Linked DNA regions of Homo sapiens: region 2 is linked to region 1. The links come from fine-mapping of genetic effects on gene expression. A gene starts in region 1. The other region holds a variant in brackets. All regions are shown on one strand. Distances are between the middles of the regions.

Region 1 (5,377 bases):
TCTCACAGTTTTATCAGGGACAGCCAGACACAGCCCTGGGGGAGAGAGGCCAGAGGTGGAAGGGCCCACTCCCTATGCTGAGGGAGAGACAGCATCGCCCCTAGAAAGGCCTTGACAGCCACATCCCCTCAGTCCTGTCCTCCTCTCACTCCTGTCCATGAACACTACAGGGCACAAGTTCTACTGCATTCTGAGTCTGAGCCAATAGAAGGTTGCCCTAATGGCCTCCCAGTTTCCTACTGACCACCCTCTGCTGGCCAGAGGGGTGCAGGCATGGCCATCACCTCCCAGCTGGAGATGACAATCTGCTCCTCTGTATCCGCCTTGTCTCCTCCCATCACTGTCCTGGCCCCTGGCCCCCCATGGAACATAAGCCTCAGTATGCACAGGGCGTTTTCAGCTACCCCAACACATTGGCTTGCTACCTCAACTATGGAAAACCAGCGGGGGAGGAATTGCCATCTTTTTGAGAAGAGGGAGTGAGACTCAGAGAATGATGCCTTTTTTTTTTTTTAACCCAAGGTCACCCTGCTTGTCGTTGGCCAAGCCAGGCCTAGAATCTGGGTCTCCAGACTCTGGGTCTGCTACTCAGGGCACAAAAGAAGAAAACATTCTGAGTTACACCCCTTCTTGGCCAGTAGTTGAGGGTAAATTAACGAAAAGAATTAATTTGTCTGTAACTCTTGTCTGTTGCTCTCTGTTTAGGAAGAACTAAAAACTCCACAAATTCAACAGTCTCCCCTCTGTCTCCACTGAACTATCCCTCCATTTTCACCACACTTTTTGGCTGCCATTCACAAAAAAAGCTGAAGCCAGCCATGGGTAACTATTAAAATCCATGTGGTTGCAGAGACAGCATCCCTATCACATGAGCTTTTGCCCTGTCCCCAAGGCCCTCTGTCATCTCCACTCCTTGTGGGCCACCACAGCAAGGCTGACTCACTGGCTCTGAAGAAGATCCACAAAGCCTGTGGAGAGGAGGCCCACAGCTCTCCAGGATGCATGAGGAGGGGCCACCAGGGATGGCCACCCCAGCGACCCCCATTTTCCCTCTTGGCCCATGGGAAATCCTAGGAGGCAACATAAGCCTGTGGCAGCCCCTCCACAAAGCCCTGCCTCCAGAGTTCCCATAGGCGAGAATGTGTCCTCAGTGGAGCATTACCTTGCACAGCCTGTGAAGTGCTCTGTGCGGGGATAAAGGCAAGTAACGTGGGGTCCTCTCTCAAGGAATTGCTAGCTTATGGGGAGAGAAAACTAAACGTGGAAGCCCCAACAGTGTGACAAATGCCCCATGAATGGCAGGCAGAAGTTAGAGTATGAAGGGGGCCCCACCTCAGGAGGTCGGGGAGTGTGGCGTCAGCCACTGCCCCATAGCAGGATGTGTGCAACATCTGCCACTGGTACTCAGCATCTGCCACCTCGCTGACCCTCATTTGACCCTCCCAGGCAAGTGCTGTGATGACCCCCTCCCTGGTGAGGAGCCGGCCAGGACTTGGATCCAAGAAGTCTGGCTTCAAACCCCATGCTCTGACCGCTCGATGGCACCGCTTCCTTGGCAGGACATCTACAGCTCCCAGGGCACCCAGGGGACATCAGCCTCTGAAAGGGGAATGGTCAGACCCGGGAGGCCTTGAATGCCATGCTAAGGAGTTCGGACTTGACAAGAGGCAGCAGCAAAGGGTTTTGATAACCTGGTTAGACGTGCTCTGATTTATTGTATTTCACTGCTGCAAGATTTACTGGACAAAGAGGAGGAGGGGGAGAAGACAGTGAGTGCAGTGAAAGGTGTCTAGAAGCCCAAGCAAAGGCCAGGGGTGGGGCGTAGAGAGGCAATGGAAAGGCACCCAGACACCCAGGCTTCCAGCCTGAGCGCGGAGTGCATGCAGGCTGCGCGGTGGCCGCCCGGGTTGCAGGGAACGCGCGGGCCAGCGACTCTGCGGTGCTACCCCGTGCCCGCACTCACCCAGGACGGCGCAGACCAGCAGGGCTCCCACGGCGAGCCTCATCTTCCGGGTGCGGCGCTGAGCAGCGAGCACAGTCGGACTCGCTTCTGTGCAGCCTCCGGCGCCCCGCGTCCCTTTATTCCATTCCCGGCCTGGGCGGGCTGGGCGCAATCTTTGACCTCCCGTGTTTGTGCAGCCGGGTTGCCCAATCGCCCCTCTCCCAACCCCCCTTCCTTACTCGTCCCACTGATCACCTCATTTTCTGAGCTCTGGAGACGACCCGCGAGTGGAAGGAGTCCAGCACAGAAATGTTGATGGGAAGGGACATGAAGCACAATGCAGCCATTGTCATCGCGGCTCGCTCGGTGCCAGGAGCGGCTACGGCGGGCTGGGAGCCGGGGGGCTCTGCTCCTGACTCCAGGGCTGCAGAGCTGGTCCGTGCCACCAGTCCTATCTGCGCAGTCCACAGAGGAAGACTCCGAGGCTGGAGAGGGAAAAGAACTGCGCCCAGACCCCACACTAGAACTGCAGAATGACAGGCAAAGCCCCTTTTGGGGGAGGATGCAGGAGAAACAAGCTGGGCTCAAGGTCAAAGACAGACTCAGCACCTTTTGCTCCCCACCAGGTGTCCCTCGAAATCCTGCTCCTGGGCTCTCAAAGGTCCCCCACGGAGGAGCTGCTCCCTCTTCCTGCCCCGCTGAGCTCAGGCTCCTGGGCTGGAAAACTTCCCGCCCTCAAGCTTCCTGTGGGACACCTTAGACTAGGGACAGAGTCATAGGGGAAGATGAACTCCCTCCAACAAGAAGGTTCCAGGAACATGGTCAAGACACTGTGAGGCTCAGAACAAAGTGTCATCTTAGCACAAAGCAAGCGGCCCAGTGGACGGTGTGGCCTGTTCTTACAGCCTGGGGCCACCATGTCCCCCTCTAGTCGATGAGTCTCCTAACCAGTTTAATTACACATCCTTATCATGAAAAATATTGAACTTGTGCCTTCTATATGCTTATATTTTAACTAAAAAATGTGTACACTTCAATCATGCACAAGGAATAGAAATTTGTAAAAGGATGAGCTAAAGATGAAACTCATTTTCAAATGTCGTTTTGCTTATGCGGCCTTATACAGGATTATTATCTCAAGGCATAATATACTTGGGGAAAGGTCAAGATTCCTTCCACGAAGTGTAAATCCAGACTTCAGAGATTTTGCCAAAAGTTACTTCTTATCCAACCTGACCAGATGGTCATTCATTCTGTCTCATGTTTTAGTTGACCAAGCTCATATCAAGCCTAGTGGACACGTCAGGTCAGTCATTTGATTTTTGTTCACTTGTTTTTGTGTTGTCAGAATTGTCTCCTAATTCTAGTTTCTTTGTAAGAATCTTTTTAAGGCATGTGTGCATCTCGTGAAGGTTGGAGTTAAAGCCAGATTATCTAATCTGTACATCCGTTTAACTGGGCACATACAAACCACAAAGTATGGAAATAAAAATGCCAAAACAAAGGGCAGGGTCGGCACTCCCCTTTTCACCTTTAGCATTGTGAGGTGAACCCCATCTTCCCTTAGGACACCTGAAAGGCTCCATCTGTCATGACTGCAGACTCAGGTGGGAGATAGGGCCAATTCACACATTCAATATGAATGAATGATAATTTGTTAATCTTTTGCAATAACAATAAATATAACTGGAAGTTAGATTATGTTCTCCCACACTCCAAAAGATTATCTCATATGCAAAGGGGTTACATACCTCCCACTTTAGAGTCCACTACAGAAGCTTTCTGTTTACAGTGAGGACAGAAGTCAAGTCTGGCTTTCCCAACACATCAGCCTCACCAGCGAGGGAGAGTGACCACTGCTGCCCTGTCTTACTCCCCCCTTGCCCGTCCACGGGCCCCTTGTGCTTGAGCCATAGGGAAAGAAGACTGTTAGCATGAGGGCCATATTCCTACTGCCCCTGCAGCAGGCTCTAGGCAGTGGTCTGGATTCATTTGGAGACCTTGAGGTAAGGATGTGAGATGAGCAGGAAAAGTCAGGGGCAAGGCTAACTGGAAGGCACCCAGCAGAGCAGCATGCACACATACAGCTGATGCATGGACAGGCCCTGTAGTAAGCTTGCAGGGTCTGCCAGAGAGCAGGAAGTGCAGTTACGAAAGGTTGAGCCCATGCCACAAACTCAGGGAAGCTCAACGCAGGGCATGGAAAGAAGATGGTCAGTGATTCTCCTTTTCTGGAGCCCATCTACATTCGTAGACTAAGCCCCGCTGAGGCCAGTCCTCCAGCCACAGGCCCATAGCCTAGCCAGAGCCCCTCAGCAGGGAGCAACTACCTACTGGCCAGGCTGAGTCCTCTCCAGAGCAGCCAGCTCTATGCCCTGTCCTCAGAAGGGTCCTTTGAGTCCAAGCCCAAGACAGGTGCTGGGAAGGAAATATACAGCCTCATGGGATATGAAGGAAGCTCAGACAAGACATAGAGAACTGGTGCTCCCACGTCATCTACACACACCTAGATGGAGAGGCCAGGGCCTTGGCTTTTGCTCAAGAGGACAACAGCAGAGCTTCGTGCTTGCCATTCCTTGGATGGGGTAGGCAGGGGTGAGGCCAGCTTTGGGGTGTACATGTGTGCATGGCCCTAGCTGTATGGGGTGCCTATGCCTGTATATGTCTATAGGAGCATGTGAAGGTAAGAGGTTAACATTACAGCGCTCCATGTCCATGACACTTGTACCTGTGCTCTCATTTATATTCTTTAATTCTATACCAGAGATGTTCTGGAGTTGGAGAATCACTGTCCCTTTTAATAGCTTAATGATGGCTGAGATTTACTGGGAGCTTCACTGAGCACTTACCATACCCCTCTGACTTTGGTGCTTTAGCATCTGTATCTTACAGATGAGACAAGGAAACTGAGGACAAGAGAGGATGATATCTTGTTCAAGGTCAGCTGCAAAGTCAGAATACAAAAGAAGGCAGTCTGGTTCCAGAGTGTACACATCCACCAGGGACACTGCCTCTCCCAGGAAACCAGGACATGCAGGGGCCAAGGAGCTCATCTGGGGTCACACCGAGAGAGGGACAGACATGAGACTCCCAGCCTTGCCATTTCTCCAAAAGCACACAGCCCCCAGGGCTTTGCCAGCACAGGGGCTGGTCAGTCTGGGAGAGGTCTGAGTACCAACTGCAGATCCTTAGACATGGACTGGCTTGATTATGCTCAGCTGGAAGAAAATATCATGTTTTTATCCCCTTGTATGTGTCAGGCACTGTCCTGGGGCAAGATCATTGGGGCAGCCATGCAAGATAAGATCAGTACCTCCATTTATCACATGTGGTCATTACAGTCAAATGATGGGTCCTTATTCATGGAGCTCTGAGACCTGAACTCAAACTTCCTAAATCTTGCCCTTCTCCAGACCACAGCTGCCTTCTTGATAT
Region 2 (5,377 bases), 150 kb after region 1:
ATCTCTTGCATCCAAGTTGGTTCATTTGCTTCCCCTGTCCTTTATACCAGGGGTCAGTAAACTATAGCCACCTGGCCAAACCTGGCCCACTGCCTATTTTATAAATAAAGGTTTGTTGGAAAACAGCCATACTCATTCATTTATGTATTTTCTATGGCTGCTTTTGCACTATAATGGCAGAGTTAAGTAGTTTCAGCACAAATCATCTATCCCACAAAATCTAAAATGTTTCTGTCTGAGCCTTTACAGAAAGTGTGCTGACCTCTGCTTTATGCAGTAGTTGTCATATATTTTACATCTACATCTTATAGCCCCAAATAAGATTTTACTTTAAATAGGTTTTGCTTTTAACAATTCTGTGCATTTTGAGGAAACTAAAATAAAAAATGGTATTTTATAATTACCCTCATGTATACCAGTTTGAGTGTCAGTTTTCCCTGAAGATCTGAGTTTCCATCTGATAACATTTTCCTTCAGCCTGAAGAACTAACTTTAGTTTGGAGTGCAGGTTGATTGGGGATCAATTCTAGCTTTCTGTTGTATGAAATGTCTATTCTACCTTCATTGTTGAAGGACAGTTTTGCAGGATACAGAATTATAGATTGACAGGTTTTTTTCTTCTATTAAAGACTTCACTGTCTGCTGGCCTCCATTGTTTCTGTTGAGAAATCAGTGATGGTCATTTGAATTGTTCCCTTGTATTCAATGTGTCATTTTTGAGACCAGCCACCAGCCTGGGCAACACAGCAAGACCCTTATCTCCCCCTAAAAAAGAAACTCTAGGTTCTATTGTTCCTTTGCTCCTCCAAAGAGTACTGTGTTGTTTAACAGGCAGTTTACTTCATACACTGTGTTTGCGTCCCCAGCCCCCCATTTGCTTGGTTCGTTTATTCTCCAGGCTCTATGGTTGCTTTTAATATATTTTGGTCAGAATTTGTAGCTGTTATCCATGGAAGAATTGAATCAAAAGGCACTTACTTGGTATTTTGTGGTGATTCATTTTCAGGTTGCCCAGTCTGCCATATTGCTAGAAAATTAAGTTTTATTACACTTATAATAAGGAGGAAAAGATCCATTTCTATGTTGGGAAATGGTTGTGGGGGGAAAATGCAAGGGTTTTGGAGTCAGATCAGTTATGAAATTTGGCTTTGCTACCTGCTAGTTATGTGACATTGGTTGTTTTCATTTAACCTTTTTTATTTTATCTCAAAAATGGGGATTAAAAACACCGATATGAAATGTTTGTAAGATCTGAGCTAGTCCCACTCTACCTGAACCATACACGTATTTCTTTGATAAAAGGTGAGACTTTGTCCCACAGGGTCCATTTTGTTTAATTTGCTGGAACCTAGGAATGAATATGCGTTTTCCTTTAAGTTTGTCAGATTCATCCCTGAGAGGTCTGAGATTTAAAGAAAAAATCTATTACCAGATCACGTAAATGTTTGAAATCATTTTAAAAAATCACTTATTTTTCCTTTTATAGGAATCACCTCCTCATGTAGAAAATTACTGTCTACCAGAAGCTATTTCATTTATTCAGAATAATAAGGAACTTGGGACTGGATTATCACAAAAGAGGAAAGCTCCTACAGAAAAAAATAAAATCAAACGACCTAGAGTACACTAATCGCATCTACCCTTTAGTTACCAAACATTAAATGTTTTTAAAAATTGAAAGCCTGAATGTGACTGTGATAGATTTGGGTAGTAATTTAAAGATGAGTACCTGAAGAATTCTGCTTCAGAGTATAATGATGACCCTTCTTGAGTTTTGAACACCTGAAATTGTAATCACTGAAATATTAACTGTTTCTTAATAAAAAGTTACCTGAAATAACAACAAAATACAACTCCTCAGCTAGCTTGCTGTTAAACCACATTGAAGTCTGTTAAAAGATATTTATTTTTCTTGTAAATATCTGAAGCTGTAGCTTAGTGGAAATTTTAGCAAGGTAATGGATTTTGCTTTAAAATGTCTGCCTTACAAATTCATAACAACAAGATTTGTCAGTCAGCATTTATTCATGTTTTCCCTGATTTTTATCTTCTCACCATTTTACCTCTTTTAACAGGAGCCTGAGCACAAGGTTTAATGAGGAAGCTGGGGCTATAAATATGTGTGTATATATGTATATGTATGTTTGTACAAATCTCCATGATGTTTGCCAAGTTTGAATGCGCAAAACTTGGAAAATGTGACAATAAAGAATAAAAGTAGTAACTCAAATTAGTATTAAGATGTGTTTACATAGATAAATTTTTTAAAAGAGCACCCTGGCATCTGTTCTTCTGTTGAAGCAACAAAACATTTATGTAACGTAAAAAATGAATTGCAGGGGCCTGGGTGCGGTGGCTCGTGCCTGTAATCCCAGCACTTTGGGAGGCTGAGGCAGGCGGATCGTCTGAGGTCGGGAGTTTGAGACCAGCCTGACCAACATGGAGAAACCTCATCTGTACTAAAAATACAAAAAATTAGCCCAGTGTGGTGGCACATGCCTGTAATCCCAGCTACTCAGGAGGCTGAGGCAGGAGAATCGCTTGAACCCGGGAGGCGGAGGTTGCGGTGAGCTGAGATCGCGCCATTGCACTCCAGCCTGGGCAACAAGAGCGAAACTCCATCTCAAAAAAAAAAAAAAAAA[G/AG]AATTGCAGGCCAGGCACGGTGGCTCATGCTTGTAATCCCACCACTTTGGGAGGCCAAGGTGGGTGGACTGCTTGAACCCAGAAGTTCAAGACCAGCCTGGACAACATGGCGAAACCCCATCTCTGCAAAAAATAGCAAAAAATTAGCCGGGCATGCTGTTTGATGCTTGTAGTCCCAGCTACTTGGGAGGCTGAGGCATGAGAATTACTTGAACTCAGGAGGCAGAGGTTGCAGTGAGCTGAAATCATGCCACTGCAACTCCAGCCTGGGTGACAGAATGAGACCCTGTCTCAAAAAAAATAAATGAATTGCTTAACATTTCTGATATTTGTTATTTAGAATATTGCCCTATTAGATTAAAACATACTGTTATTGGAACTCTGTATTGCATTAGCCTTTATTATGCTAAACCTAAACACCTAATACTACATGCGTTACCAGAATTCTCTATAAATACACCTAATTTCATTTTAAGGACAAACTAGAATCCGTTAGGAATGTAATTTTGATGTAAACCGTTCAATTCCAAATGACTTTTTGAAAGGCAGATTCAAACAGTGAAGGAGAGAGTGCTCAACTTGGACACAAAATCCCTTAAATTTTCATCAGATTTTCTTCAAAATGGAGTTGAGGGTATCCCTGCTGCTAGAGGATTGGTCCTACAGGGTTTTCAGCTTTGAGCTAGTTCACAGCTTAGGACAATACAAATTCTACACAGAGAAATAGGTAGCATTATGATGTAAACTGTCCCCCTCCCACCAAACAAAAACCACATGGGCCTGTCTTTATCAGAGCTATTTTATTTTAGCTGAATCATTTTGTAGATTGTAGTACGTTTCCCTGAATTTTATTACTCAGAATCCTTTGAAATAGGCCAGGCACAGTGGCTCACACTTGTAATCCCAGCACTTTGGGAGGCCAAGGTGGGCAGATTACTTTAGGTCAGGAGTTCGAGACCAGCCTGGCCAACATGACGAAACTCCATCTCTACTAAAAATACCAAAATTAGCCAGGTGTGCCGGCACGTGCCTGTAATCCCAGCTACATGGGAGGCTGAGGCAGGAGAATCACTTGAACCAGGAGGTGGAGGTTGCAGTGAGCCGAGATCGCACCACTGCACTCTAGCCTGGGTGACAGAGTGAGACTCCATCTCAAAAAAAAAAAAAAAAAAAATTCTTTGAAATAGTTACTTTTTAAATTACCTAATATACCACTTTCTTTTCTGCCAAAATTATGAATGGTTTTCCAGTTCAAACTTAGACACACAGTTTACCATTTAAGGCTCCAGGTCTCAGTTTCTCCTCCTAACTTTCCAGCATCTGCCCATACTCTGTATAAGCCACTTGAACTCTGGCTTTGGCTGTTAATCTGTAAATGTCCTAATGCCAGCAACAATATCCTCTTATATACAAATAATTCCAAGCATAGGTAGTCTTCTTGTTTAAAAAGGGGAGGGGGCAGAACTTGCCTTGATTAGATTAGTATGAGTTTCTTTTCTGAATGGCTACGATATTTTAATCTGTGATATTTAAATTATCACCTTATATCCCTCCACGAATTTTCCTGTGCATTAGTCTGATCTCACCAACATTCGTTAATTCAACAGGTAGGAATCCTCAACCTGTGCCTAGGATTCAGCAACAAACCACCTGGAACACATGGTCCCTTAGCACTTGAAGAGGTAGGAATCCTTACTGTAAATACAGTACTCAATTATACTCAGATTTAGTATTTACACTGTTAAGGACTGAGCTTGTCCCCCTAAAATTCACAGGTTAAAGCCTAACCTGCTATGTGACTGTAGACAGAGCCTTTATAAGGGGATTAAATGAGGTCATAAGAATGAGTCCCTAACCCACCAGGACTAGTGTCCTGGTAAGAAGAGGGAGGCACACCAGGAGTTTGCCGGCACGGAGGAAAAGCCCTGTGAGGACACGGGGAGGGCAGCTATCTGTTTACACACCAGGAAGAAATGTCTCACCAGATACCAACCCTGGCCGTCTCCTGGATTTTGGATTTCCAATCTCCAGAACTGTGAGAAAATAAATTTCTGTTTAAGCCACTCAGCTTGTGATGTTCCTTTGTGGCAGCCTGAGCAGACCAGTAACAATATTAACAGTAATAAGGTTCTTACTTTGGGGCCTGAGATGCCTGGGAATGGAACAGGCTGTTTTGTATATGAGCATTTTTAGGGTAGAGTTCATAATTCTAGAGTTTGGATCTGTGACTTTCCACCCAAAAGTCACAAACCACTGCTCTAATGCAAACCTATTATTTCACATTTACACCTCTCACCTAGAAGTGCTTTAATACAGGCTGCTTTGTATCAGGGCTTGGTTTCCTTCTGACCTTTCAAGACATAAAAATCATTACTAGCTTGAGGCCATGCAAAAATAAGCAGTGGGCCATAGTTGACTGTTCCTTATTTTCTATCCCTAAAAAGATTTTAAAATCTAGATCTGTCAACAAGCAAGGCACCCAGCTCAATTTTTTTTTTCTTTTGAGACGGAGCCTCGCTCTTGTTGCCCAGGCTGGAGTACAGTGGCATGATCTCAGCTCACTGCAACCTCTGCCTCCTGGGTTCAAGCCATGCTCCTGCCTCAGCCTCCTGAGTAGCTGGGATTACAGACGTGTGCCACCACGCCCAGCTAACTTTTCTATTTTTGTAGAGATGGGGTTTCGCCATGTTGGCCAGGCTGGTCTCAAACTTCTGACCTCAAGTGATCTGCCCGCC

Which allele goes with the higher level. Alleles are on the strand shown, and positions count from the first base shown. SD is a standard deviation of normalised expression in the study named.
In carriers of allele AG in region 2, the expression in fetal neocortex of the gene that starts at base 2,054 in region 1 tends to be lower than with G alone (moderate effect, 0.63 SD a copy in Walker 2019).

The links.
Region 2: its variant is fine-mapped to the expression of TF in fetal neocortex (Walker 2019, PIP 0.90).

The regions. Positions count from the first base shown.
Region 1 is chr3:133,743,070-133,748,446 of GRCh38, reverse strand. TF (transferrin) reads right to left here and starts at 2,054. Exons shown (of 17, transcript NM_001063.4): 1 at 1,964-2,054; 2 at 1-35. The coding sequence starts at 2,006.
Region 2 is chr3:133,597,503-133,602,879 of GRCh38, reverse strand. It overlaps TOPBP1 (DNA topoisomerase II binding protein 1), which reads left to right. Exons shown (of 28, transcript NM_007027.4): 28 at 1,487-2,642. The coding sequence ends at 1,630. It overlaps LOC124909437 (a long non-coding RNA gene), which reads left to right and starts at 3,803. Exons shown (of 2, transcript XR_007096110.1): 1 at 3,803-4,324; 2 at 4,418-4,705. The variant G/AG (reference allele first, on the strand shown) is at 2,643.